Linked DNA regions of Homo sapiens. The protein of the gene in region 1 interacts with the protein of each later gene in a pairwise test. Each region holds a gene or a part of one and is shown on either strand. Other genes may lie near its edges.

Region 1 (7,031 bases):
GGTCCATGGAGAATGGCAGCCCAGTCCAATTACTTCTGCAATCCCATGATCAGGCACAGGGCATGACACACAGAAGTCCTTCCAACGAAGTTTCATAAAGGACAAAAGGGTGCTAAGAGGGCCTCTGAGCTCCACCTATGGCATCCAGAAGTACCCCAAGTCAGCCTAGACAAAAAGAAATGAAACAAAGCCAACGAGCCTCACCCTGGGTAGGTGAGGACATCAAGGCCCAGGGAGCTGAAGCCCTTTGCCCCAGTTCCCACGGGAGTTGACAGGCTGAGACAGAGCCCAAGCCTTGTTTCTGATGGAAAGGCTGGGGTTCCTGCCAGTGCTACAGTGACACCCAGCCCAGGAAGGAGGGCTAGCCTGGTGCAGGCCCCAGAGCATCTTCCCTCAGCTGTGACAATACTAATGCTCCTGGCTAGGAAGTCACCTAAGGGACAGGGCAAGGCAGTGGCCCACCCTTAATACCAGTTTCTGCCCTACCCCAGAGTGTCCAGGGTCCTCTTCCCAGGAGTTCTTCAGCCTCTAGACTCCCTCAGCCCTGGCTTCTGTCCCCACTCAGCACTCTTGGGGAACATGGCACACTCTGGGCCCTGGGGGACTGGGGAATCCTCAAGACAGGCCTTTTTGCCTGTTTTGGTGTCTCTGGCCTCCTTCTTTCTCCCTTCTCAGCCAAGAAGTAGGCAGGAGAGGCTGAGAGGCAGGAAATTACCCTGACTGGAATGATCGTGCAGTTCCTGAGGAGCCCTGCTTGGCTCCGCACTGGGGTGGAGGCTGGCCACAGCATGAGAATGACAAAAACAAGAATGCCGGCCAGAGATCCAGGGCCTTGCACTCTCCAAGAAATCCTGATCTGTTCTTGGCAGCACCCCAAACCCAAGCTGCCTGCCCTCAAAGGCCAATCCTTGCTCCCCACTCAAAAATATTTTAATGATTTCCTGTTTCCTGCAACTGCCTGGAATCCAAAAGCTTCTCCTGTCCTTCAACGCCCCCCAGAATGTAGCCTTCACACACTGAGGTCTGAGGGTAAAGACAGGCCTGAGTTCAAATCCTGACTCTGACTCTGTCGCCTCTGTGTGATCTTGGGCAAGTCACTTCATTCACCTCTCTGCCTCCATTTCTGCATGAAGTCCTTAGCAGAGGGATAGGCACACGGTAAGCACAAGTCTCTGCTACTGTTATTACTCATTCGAATCCACCCCAGCCAGATCTGTCTGTATACTGTCCCCTCTAATTATCCACCCCGTGCTTATTTCATGCTGTGCCTTCTACTTGGAATGCCCAATTCCTTTTCCTCTTTTGGTCCAAACCCCTATCAACATTGTTCAATCTTCATCCTTTAATGGCTGCTGGGGTACCCATGATGGGGAGCACAAAAGGTATGAAGACAAAGAAATTTATAGGCACCCTGCCTGGGTGACCCCTCCCCTTGGTGAGGGATGAGCATCTCCAGGAGAGGTACTTTTTGGTGGAGGTAGTGTAGCATAGTAGTTCAGAGTATGAAGTCTATAGTCAGAATGCCTGGCTTTAAACCTTGAGTTTATATGTATAAAGTTCTTAGAATAGCTCCTAGTAAAGACTAAGCACTCGATGTGTGTTTTTGTTTTTTTTTTTTTGAGATGGGGTCTCGCTCTGTTGCCCTGGCTGGAATGCAATGGCAAGATCTCGGCTCACTGCCACCTCCACCTCCTGGGTTCAAGCGACCTTCCTGCCTCAGCCCCCCGAGTAACTGGAATTATAGGCATGCACCACCATACCCAGCTAATTTTTATATTTTTAGTAGAGATGAGGTTTCACCATGTTGGTCAGGCTGGTCTCGAACTCCTGACCTCAGGTGATCTGCCTGCCTCGGCCTCCCAAAGTGCTGGGATTACAGGCGTGAGCCACCATGCCCGGACTAGCACTCAATATTTTTTGCCTAGAATGATCATTATTAATACATCCTCCCATCCTGGAACTGTGATGCTCCATGACTGGAAAATGAGGTCCAAGACACCTCAGGTTGCTAAGTTTCCTGAAACTGCCCTTCTATCCCTCTATCTTCCCAGGTTCTCACCAGCAACTGGGAGGGAGGCAGATGGACCAGAATAGCCACACTAACTGGGGGAAAAACAGGCTCAAGGAATAACTGATGAGCACCAGGTACCAGACAGCGGGGCATTAGGGACCCGAGGTTACCCCCACCCACTGACACATGTGACATTTCACTGTCACTCTCTCTTGTCTTGCTTTAAACCAGTGCCTGCTGAAGGTGACTAGCTACTCTGAGGTTTACATCATGAACCCTCTCCCTCACCCTGGGTCAGGTCATGCTGCCTTACCATGGCTTGGAAAATCCACCCTCCCTTATCCTGTGCATTTCAAAAAGTCACTGGGATACCAACAACTTCTGCTCACTCCCGCCTGCAGGGCTTTTACTAAGAGAGCTCTTTCAAACCTGCTTAGTTGGCAGGACAGTGTAGTGGTCAGAGGCAGGCTCTGCCATCAGACTGGTTGGGTCTGTTCCACCACTTGTTCTACGTGTGACTTTGAACACATCACTTCACCTCTGAGTCCCGATGTCCTCATCTGTTGAATAGGGCTAATGATACGGTTGTGATGCGGACTGAGATCATACCTGAAAAGTGTCTATAAAAGAGTACCTAGCATAGTCAATGCTGAAAAATGCTACCTACTATTACAAATACCTTGCAGCATGAGTTTTGTCTTATACAGACAGTGTTCTCAGAAACAAAGCTGTAAAGTGAGGCCAGATACATAAAATCCATAATGTTGTCTGAACTGGAAGGGATCTCAGATGATGGTATGCACACCTCCATCAAGCGTCATAGCCTGATGCCCTTAGAGGCCAGGTATATATCAGAAATGCCCAAAGGGGGGTTGGTGGGAGCAGAGGCAGACTAGGGCACTTGTGCAGGGTCTAAAGGGCATGCTCAACATTAAGCTCTATATTATTGCTGCCACTAGGAAAACAGATCTTGTTGAGTTGCTAGATCTTTTGACTTCTCAAGAAAGGCTGGAAATCTCATTTTTAGGGAAAAATTCTTGATTCTTTGTACCACTCACATTTATTTAAAAACCCAACACAACAAAATAAAACCAAACCAAAGTATGGGTTCAATAAGACATGTCTGTAGGTCAGATTCAGCTCTGGGAAAGCCAGTTCACAGCCTCTGCATTGCCTCATAAAGTTGAGGCCTACAGCTTATGTGACTTGTCTAATGCCACAGAGCGAGAGAGCTCTCACTGAGCCTAGTCCAACCTTTTTCAAGTAGGCATGGCCTTCTGGGACACCCCCGCCACTTACCTGTGTTTGCATTGCTCCCAATACTGTTGATGGCTGGCGGCACTGAGCTGGATGGGTGGAAGGGCACGTGTCCATTTTCCCGGGGTGGCTTGTCCTGCCAGCCTGGCCCTGCCTCCCCAGGGCCTAGCTCTGCAGGGCCCCCCCACTCATCTGAGCCTTGACGTGAATGGTAGGAGGGCTCTGGCCGGGAGCGGAAGCCACTAGCCAACCGCTCTTCCAGGTGGCTCAGCCAGAGGGCCAGTGCGTTGCGGTCCTCCAGTGTGGTGGCTGGGTGGATGAGGGCATAGGAAAGCAGCTGGCGACTCTCCTCGATGAAAGCATTGCTCTCGATTGAGTAGGCCAGCACTTTCTGCAGTAGCCTCATGTACTCCGACTTGGCCTCTGTGTTGCCTGGCTGAAGCAGGGGAAGGTGGGACAGCAGGAGGGACACCACCTTCTCTTTGGACTCCTGCTGCCACTGGCTGACGATGGCTACAGAAGGGATAAGAAGAAATATCAGGAGAGCCAGGGTGGGGTACTCCTATTCACCTGAGAGCACTGCCTATGGCCTATTCCCTCAGCTCCAATCTTCTTTTCATAACGATTTTCTTTTCATAACTCCCAAACTTATCCCTCATATAGGTGAGATCAAACACACTGACCCTGCCTCTGGAGTAATTTTTGTCTTATTTTTTTTAAGAGATGGGGTCTCACTATGTTGCCCAGGCTGCAGTGCAGTGGCTATTCACAAGTGCAATCCCACTATTGATCAGCACGGGAGTTTTGACCTGCTCCATTTCCAAACTGGGCCAGTTCACCCCTCCTTAGGCAACCTGGTGGTCCCCCACTCCTAGGAGGTCACCATACTGGGGCCACACTTAGTGCAGACACCCAATCAGCATAGCACACTATAGCCCAGAACTCCTGGACTCAGGCAATCCTCTTGCCTCAGCCTCCCAAGTAGCTGGTACTACAGTCATGTGCCCACCACAGCTGGTGTAGAGTAATTTTTCTTTGTTCTATCACTCCTGTTCTCAGAAACCTGCAGTGCCTCCCAATCAGCCAAACTTGCTACTCTGGAATCTGAACAACTCCTGTCCCCAGGCCTGCTCTCATGCTTTATCTCCATGACTCCTTCCTCCATTCTTCATGGCCTCTATGCCATTTCCCCTGCCAAAAAGCAGTCTCCTTCCTGAATGGAGAAGGCAGTGGTATATGGTAGTTAAAAGCTTGGGCTCTGGAATCAGATGGTCTAGACACCCCAGCTTACTAGCTAGATCTTGGTAAGCTACCTTGAACCTCATGGAGCACTAAATTATCTGCGAAATTTTGGAGATAATTACAGTACCCAATTCACAGTGTTGCTTTGAGATTCAATGAGCTAGCAAAGAACACAAAGTGGTTTGGCGACATAATAAATGCTTGCTATTGTTTTTTAACTGGTCTCTCTGCTTCTAGATTCTCCCCTTCCAATCGATCCCATACATCCAGATGCATTTATCTTCCTAAATCACAACAGGATGTCATGTTCCTGACCAGGAGTTTATAATGGCAACCAGCAAGCACCAACAGACTCAAGTCCAAGAACTCCTAGCCTAACATCACCTTCATTTCCAGGGCACCCTCCATCTCCCATTCCTCCAGATAAAGACTCAGCTCAGGATATCTCCCCATCTTCCTTGGGGTTCTCTCCACAGTATGTATTTATCCAAGCTCCACACCTTGGCTGAGATTCAAGGTTTTGGCCCGCAACAACCTCCTTCCTCCTATACAAATTCTCTTTTGTAGATGGCCTAACTTACTACCTTCCTCCAGGAAGCATTCCCTGGCTGTTCCATGTCATGGTCATCTTGACCTCTCCTTTCTATCCCACTGTGTGAGGACCTGAGTCTACCCTGTGGAGATAAGCCAGGTTTCCCTTTTCTTTTTTTTTGAGGCGGAGTCTCGCTCTGTCGCCCAGGCTGGAGTGCAGTGGCGCGATCTTGGCTCACTGCAAGCTCCACCTTCTGAGTTCATGCCATTCTACTGCCTCAGCCTCCCGAGTAGCTGGGACTACAGGCGCCCACCACCACGCCCAGCTTATTTTTTGTATTTTTAGTAGAGACAGGGTTTCACCGCATTAGCCAAGATGGTCTCGATCTCCTGACCTCGTGATCCACCCGCCTCAGCCTCCCAAAGTGCTGGGATTACAGGCGTGAGCCACTGCGCCCGGCCTCAGGTTTCCCCTTTCAACCCACAAGGGAGGTCCCTAAGAATATGGCCCCAGGCTGGCCACATCAAAGAAGGCTTGGGTAGGAACTGTTACAAGTCTGACTCTCCCCCTCAAAGACCTTATTAGCACTGGGCGTGGTGGCTCACGCCTGTAATCCCAGCACTCTGGGAGGCTGAGGCAGGTGGATCACCTGAGGTCAGGAGCTGGAGACCAGCCTGGCCGACATGGTGAAAGCCTGTCTCTACTAAAAATACAAAAATTAACCGGGCATGGTGGTGGATGCCTGTAATTCCAGCTACTTGGGAGGCTGAGGCAGGAGAATCACTTGAACTCGGGAGGTGGAGGTTGCAGTGAGCCGAGATCGCGCCACTGCACTCCAGCCTGGGGGCAAAGTGAGACTCCGTCTCAAAAAAAAAAAAAAAAAAAAGAAAAAGAAAAAAAAAACCTCATTAGCACTTCTGTGACTAGCTAAACAGGGTGGAAGATGGAGATAATGCTGACAGGACAAGGAGAGGGACAAAAAATACCAATACTTGGGAAAAGAGACAAAGATTTAGGTCTGAGGCCAACTACGCTCTCACCCTTGGGCAACTGAGCTCACATCTGTAGCCAAGGTGATGACTTACAAATATCTCACAAAGGAGTTCTGAGAGATGTGCTAATGGTGAGGTCTTGGAAATGGGCAAAGGAGCTGGCTCTAACCAGACAGAGCTAGGACCCCAAAGGAGTGGGTGATGAAAAGGAATAGGCAGAGATGTGGCATATGTCCCTTTACCACCACTTACTGGCCATGTGACTCTGGGCAAGTGTGATCACTTCACTGAGCTCTATTTTCTCTATCTGTAAAGTGGAGCCCAGAATCATTCCTACCTGGCATGGCTGCTATGAATTATGTGAGGCCACAGCATAGAGTAAGTCCTCAGTAAACACTAGCTGCTTTTACTAGTATTGTGGTTATTATATCTCACTGTGTCTCCCTCCTTTCAGATACACACAGAGATTCTAAAGGCACAAGCCAAATCTCTGGGCCCAGGAAACCAAGAGGCTAGGAATAAGCACCTATAAGGAAAGTCTTGGAAACCTAGACATCTGAGGGTCTTTCAACCCAAGTTCCTTAGGCCTTTACGATTCCAAGGACATCTAGCATGCTTCAGGATTGACTTAAAAAAAAAGTTCCATGGACTTCTGGTCTCCTCTGCCCACACTGAAGGATGGACACCTGGCCTTGCATACAAACTCAGAAATGCCCTGTCTGTAGCCCTATTTCTCTTAATGATCCCCTTAGAACTCTGTGGCCTAGAATTCACATACACTCCTAATTCTGCTTAAGTTTGTAGCCTTAGGAAAATGAATCTCACACAGTTCCTAACTCCTGGCTATAAAGACTGTGCATTTTCTTGGCCTGGGGCTCTTTGCTCTAAGCTTCCAAGAGAGAACACCTGTTTGTTAGTTTTTGTTTTCTATTTTTCTGAGATGGAGTCTCGCTCTATTGCCCAGGCTGGAGTGCAGTGATCTCAGCTCACTGCAACC
Region 2 (7,031 bases), on another chromosome or scaffold:
AGTTTTGGCATCTGACACCCATCAGATCTGCTGGCTGACCGAATTATACATTCTGTGGATAGAGAGTTCTCAAAGTAACATTGATCCATGATATTTTGTTGCTGGATGAGAGGAGCAGTTTCTGGCTTTAACCCAACAGTTCTTAGGTGTGAAGACCATAATGAAGATGGTTCATTACTGTTCACTCTCTTCCCAGAAGCAGAGTTATCAACGTGAAAAGGCAAACCTGTTCTCTCAGAATTTTCTATATTAAGCCACTCAGAAAATTTGCATTCATTCGGTTTTTCAAGTTTCTGTTCATCTGACTGGTGGATATGTTCTCTTGCATTATGGTCCTTGGGTATTTGTAGACTGGATGAAGGAAATAACTTTCCATTGTCTTCATGTACATGTGATCTGAAATATGAAAATAAAAACAAAGCTAGAACACCCTATGCAAATATATGAAACTAGGGGAAAATAAACATTTGTTTTGTAGTTTGATTTTCCCAAAATACAGTTTATATTATTTTTACAACAAAACCACAAAAATGGAAAGATATTTGCAACCATTAACATTTTCAACTCTCTCCAAATCCAAACTCTTTATGTCAGAATATGTGAGTGTTTACCAGAAACACCCATCATTACCAGAATCCCATTTCTAATAATTAGAAATATAATTTTAAAAACTCACTTCAACTCAAAACACTAAAATTACATTTATTTGTAACAATATATAGAACTTGAGGAAAGTGTTAACAGTCAAACAGTACTCTAAAACATCTCCCCACCAACATTCCAAACTTTAAAGGCAATAGAGGTAGAAGTACTTAAATTTTGATATATAGCAGTATAGTATATTAATTACTTTATTATATTTTGCAAATATATTTATATTATATTTGAGGGTCTTGCTATGTTGCCTAGGCTGGCTTTAAACTGGCCTCAAGTGATCCTGCTGCCTCAGCCTCCTCAGTAGCTAGGATTACAGACATGTACCACCACATCACACCTGGCTGTATAATAGTTTAAAATAATGTAATCAAGATTATCTTTAGGTAATAGTTATTTTCTAAGGTGAGGGTAAATGATGCCATATTGCAAATTATTTTTCTTATATGAATTATGTGGAATTGAATTAGAATGCAATGGTTAAAGAGAGTTGAGGATTTGCTAGGTAGATGGAGCTATAATCAAATCTCAGCTCGATAGTTTTGGTCACATTACTTAACCTAAGCTTCAAATTTTCTCTTGTAAAATATCACCTACCTCATAAGAATGCTGTGAGGATTGAAACAGACAATCAGATACTGTACCTGGTACTTTGTAAGCTCTCTATCCTTAGATCCACATTGTATTAATGATTCCCAATAAGAAAGGCATCTCAATACTATAGACCCATTGCTTTCAAAGTAATAATATGTATTTATGCCCTTCTGATAAACAACGTGCCTATAATACATGTATTTAGGGAAAAAAAATATGGTTACCTTTTTATCAAATGATTTTTTATTTGTAAATGTGATTCTGGGTGGAATTCATGAGATTTATAGCCTGCTTCCAAATTCCTGAGTTCTTTTCTAAAGCCTAGGGTTGGGTGGGGTGGGGAGAAGAGATGAGGAAAACAAAATTATTTAAATTATGTTACAGAATTTATTTCATTTATACTTTTCTATATTTACATAAAGCTTTCTATAAAAGGTAATCTCTTCCAATTTAAAAAAATGAATTCTTTAAGACCCAACTCAAAATAACAGTTCTTTTTGGAATGCTTTATGCAAAATTTCTTCAGTTTATTATCACTTGAGGGTGTCATCCATGATGGAATAGTGCTGTTCCTGCTGGGTCATGCAGATCTGTGTATGTGTTTTCCCTGTTACTTAAGACAAGATCTTTACTGACCAAGTGTTAACAGTGAAAAAAACCCTGCATTTGAAGATCGCTGGCTTGAGTTGAAGTTTGGACTCACTAATTATGGGTAGGTAAACAAGCCTTTTAACCTCTTAAAATCTCAGTTCCCTCACTTATATAATGGGATAATGATAATCCATTTTACCTACCTCATGGGAATATTAGGAATTTAAACTGAATTAAAATTGGTAGGAGGTTATTATGATAGCATATAAAATATACCACTACTAATTAGCTACCATTTATTGACTGCTTACTCAAGTTGTGAGAAGTGGATATTTCATTTAATCTTTACAATAACCTTATAAAGAAATGACTAGCAACTTGATGTTACAGATGAGAAAACAGTGGCTTAGAAAGGTTAAGTATATATATCGATATACTACAGAATTAGATCTTTATGACTCAAAAGTCCGTGCTCTTAACCATGATGCCATAATGCTTCCTAATAATTGATACTTAACTTCTCTCCTGGTTCTGACATTTAATAGGCACCAAATAGTTTTTTAATTTAATTTTAATGAAGTCTTATGAAAAAAGTTATACTAATTTACAGTGTGACTTTTGTTACTTCCAAGTGTCTTCCAAGCCTGCTACATGAGATTTCAGATACCAAATTAATCATTTTTTCTCTCTCTCTAATTATAGCTAGCTATTGATTAGAACCTAAAGGTCAATATGGCACCACATAAAATACAGCAGGTCTATTTCCCTCTGAACAACGATTCTAGGAGAATTCACTGGAGAGCCTTTAACAATATTAATGTTCAGAGTAAAACATTATCTACATTTGGATTTCTCTCTACAAAACATGACCTTAACTAAAACAGCTCTAATAAAAATGACTATTGCCCTCTAATCTTTAATACAATTAAATTAAATTAATGTCCAGACTACAGATAAAGTAGGCCCAACTGAACAAACAAAACCCTGAAAACTAAAAATTATTTTAAAAGGTAGAGATGAAGAAAAGGGAACTAAGACATTTGGATTTGTACAGGAGTTTACCTAACACCATCTCAGTTTTTGATTCCCCCTTATGGGAGAACAAGTGCTTTATATCTGAGAACCTGAAGGTCTACAGGGAGCTTTTTCCTTTACTAAGGCACAAGGGTCCTGGGGCACCAATATACTGATAGAAAAGTCACAACCACCAATGTATCAACAAAGCACAAAAGTATCTTTAATTACTTTGTGAACATCATCACCCACTTATCGTAGAAATGAGAAGCAGAAAACTGTATAAAATTATTTTAGTCATGTACCACCACAATAATGATAGCTACAGTTTATGGAATACCCAATATGTACCAAGTCTTAAGATTATGCTTGTTCAGCAATTCTCGAAGTGTGGCCTTGGACCCCGGGAGGTCTCCGAGACCCTTTCAGAGGGTCTATGAAGTCAAACTATTTTCATGATAATATTAAGATGTTACTTTACTTTTTGACTGTGTTGCCATTTACACTGATGACGCAAAAACAATAATGGGTAAAAATGTTAGCATAATTCAAGGCAGTAACACTAAACTGTACTAATTGTATTCTTCATTGCCATATACTTGTGTTTTTTAAGCCAGTTTTACTTAAAGAATGCTTGATGAAACAGTAACAATTATTTTATTAATTTACTTCATTTGCACATCTTTTTGTTATTCTATATGAGGAAATGGGAAATATGCATAAAGCACTTTTGCTGTGGTAATACTAAGCATGACACCTGTTTGAAGAAAACTTGTATCCACCACAAGTTTTGCAACTTCCCAATACTTATAAAGACTTTCTGCTAGTATCTATGGTGATAGTAACAAAAATAGTTTTTAGAAAGATATTAGTGAAATGTATCAACACTTGGAAGCCCTGCATAACTCAGCAAACCAGTATTTTTTTTTTTTTTTTTTTTTTGAGACAGAGTTTCGCTCTTGTTGCCCAGGCTGTAGTGCAATGGCACGATCTCGGCTCACTGCAACCTCCGCCTCCCAGGCTCAAGCAATTGTCCTGCCTCAGCCTCCTGAGTAGCTGGGATTTCAGGCATGCGCCACCACGCCTGGCTAATTTTTTATATTTTTAGTAGAGACGGGGTTTCTTCATATTGGTCAGGCTGGTCTCGAACTCCAAACCTCAGGTGATCCGCCAGCGTCGGCCTCCCAAAGTGCTGGGATTACAGGTGTCAGCCACCGTGCCCGGCTGCAAACCAGTATTTTTTAAATGACCCTACATGGATGTTACAAAATCATGCATGAGTAAAGTATCCATTCAAAGTGCAAGACAGACTGATGTATTTTAATGTAATGGAGGACGAAAAGTTAAATACTATGGTTTCAGATTTCACACTGCATTAAAGAAACTACTACTTGGTGTAGTGTCAAAGAATAATATCCACAATTTTTAGGAAAAGCTATTAAAATATTCCTATTTCCAACTGTATTATCTGTGTGTAAATGGGCTTTCTTCATACATGAAAACATCACAACAGTCTGATGCAAAAACAAGAATCCAGCCATCTTACATGAAGCCAAGCATTAACTGAGATTTGAAAGCATAAAACAATGCCATTCATCTCACTAAATTTTTGTTTTCAATAGTTAATTTTCATTTAAAAATGTTATTTGTGTTAGCATGTACTGGGTTTATTTCTTTAAATGAATAAATATTTTGAAAGTTTCAGTTTTAGTGCCTAATCTAGCAAATGTTGATAGACATAACCTATATAAGACATAACCTATATAAGACATAACCATAACAAAAGCTCTTTTAGGTCATAAATCCTTTTCTAAGATTATAAAGATATCTGAGGCCCAAAAGTTTGACAACTACTGTTCTAGTTGGTAATAGTTGTCTTTTAAAACATCAGTCACAACTGTTCTGTGAAACAATTCCCCTTTTTACACTTGAGGAAACTTAGGCTCAGTGAAGTTAAGTGACCTAATCTATATTCTATATATCTGGTAAGTAGGAGCATTTAAACCAATCCAGGGTTCACTCCAAAGCTAGTGCTCATGCCACTGCACTATGCCATTAACATACAAAGACATTATACTAAATCTCCTTCTGATGAAACTAGGCCACTAGTGTGAACATCAAATAACATGCTGATGCCCATAGAAGATAGCAAAATATATGGCATTAGCATGAACTGTCAATTAATCGTCTACACTTCTGTAACATTTCTAGTAAGTTTTTCTGCATTCTCCCGTATTTTTAGTTGACATTTTCATCATGTTCATTTATCTCATTTTCCTCTCATTCTCCTGTTTCTACTTTACTGTACACCAAATCTATGAAGACTGCAAAGAAAACAAAGTTATTAAAGCAGTGATTTTATTTTTTAAACAATAAGTGTTCTTTATCTTAGATATTTTTTAGGTATTGCCCTATAGGGGAAAAATAATCTATATTTGATTATGATCAGGCTCTGCAAGTTAAATCTTGGAAGCAATTTCCAAGAAAGAGTCATGTAATATACATGAGAATTTAATACCCTCTATGCCAACATCGCTCCATATAGTAAATAATAAAAACTTAAGATGGTAGAATGAGAGGAACTATAAATCTGGCATTCATTTAAGATTTAACACGTTTACTTCCACTAAATTGCTGTAAGCGCTCTGATTATATACGTGCCTTTAAAAAAAAAAATTTGCCCAGAAGTTAACACAGTATCTAGCATACAAAAGACATTCAAATGAAGGTCTGCAGAATAAACAATTGCCTCAAAAACACAGTTTTACTTCTTTTAAGTCACCTCCACCCTGCCCATCATGTTCCCAACTCAGTGGTGCAAGACAAGTTAAGTATGAATTGAGACAAATCTTATCTTTCCCTCCCACTTAAGTCTATAAGTGCTATACTCATAACACTTTTAAAAAGCAGTAAAATTTATCCCAGAGTCTCTCTAGAAGGAATATATTATTTTTCATGTTTAAGAAAATCACTGTGGGTAAGCCTGACACACTGCCTGAGGCTCGAAAACTTTGCCAATCTTTTCAACAGCTATTTTATGATTAAAAAAAGATGTGACAAGAAATAAGATGTCAAAAAGAACTTCAATAATTTGTCAATGTTCACAGCTTAATTTTTAAGTTGAAATGTAATTTGCTACCCAGTGTGATTTTTAACTTCATATTATTAGCCAATTCATAATTTATTCACCAATTCATAATTTCAAGTTTAATATTCACAAACAAGAAACAAGTAAATATTTAGTTCTTAAGTAATTCTTTACTTTTATAAATTATTCACACAATGGGCAGCAGGAGGCAGCATAGGTTTTATGAGCATGTTTGAAATTTTAATATCACTGTGGCAGGCATTCAACCAAGTGGTTTGACTTCAGAATTCCAACTAACTTAAAAATAGATATGTTATTTTTCTCTTCTGCTGACATAGACATCCATGTGTCTTTGTGAGGAATTTTGGCTCCAGGTTATTCGCAAATCTAAGTCCAATTTTAACGCTTTGACACAGAAAAAAAAAACTCAGTATCAAGGCAAGAAACTTTAATAATGCCCATTTTGATTCTGTATACAAAAAAACCCAAAGCAGAGTATTCAAGAAATCAAAATATATATTTCATCTAAAAAAAAGACCTATGTTTAAAATAGACATATATATATATTTACAAACCCTAAACATTAAACAGCAATAATCAAATCAATGACTGAATTTACAATAAAAATACATTTGAAATAAATTTGAATATTTTAGAAAAATCAGAAAACTTTAACTAGATAAATATTTATGGATAAATTTACTACATACTAAAAGGAGTAGAGAGATACTTTAATATGTAGTAATAATCTATACTATCTGAAACCTAAATTTGGGGATTTTACAAAATAATAAAGCAGGAGTCAATAAATGCTTTTTGCACTTGGATTATAATTTAAAGGAAAAGCAAATATTGCTATTTTGCTACAAAGCAAATTTCAATCCCAGAAGTTTAGTTTTAAAAAAGTACATAGGTAGCCATTTGGTGGTCCTGGGTAGGCCACAGCAAGAGAAGAGATTATGTGTTACCAGTTTGTGAAATTCTTAGAGAAAAAATGTTTAAAATGCATAGAAAAAAAATCGGCTGACAAAAGTACTTCTCTAAATATACTTTCTAATGTATTTATCTTAAATGAACAAACTTGGTAGTT

The links. The genes of interacting proteins can lie anywhere in the genome.
Region 2: the proteins of SAMD4B (region 1) and USP53 interact in binary tests that used the Homo sapiens proteins (3 or more experiments, as listed by UniProt).

Annotation. Positions count from the first base shown.
Region 1 is NC_000019.10:39,366,405-39,373,435, reverse strand, and holds part of SAMD4B (protein Smaug homolog 2), read right to left. Parts: intron 4,275-7,031; exon of another isoform or gene 3,988-4,274; intron 3,782-3,987; coding exon 3,311-3,781; intron 1-3,310.
Region 2 is NC_000004.12:119,285,703-119,292,733, reverse strand, and holds part of USP53 (ubiquitin carboxyl-terminal hydrolase 53), read right to left. Parts: intron 1,570-7,031; coding exon 1,473-1,569; intron 397-1,472; coding exon 1-396. UniProt on the Homo sapiens protein: Deubiquitinase that mediates 'Lys-63'-linked deubiquitination of tight junction proteins, such as MARVELD2 and LSR, and which is involved in the survival of auditory hair cells and hearing.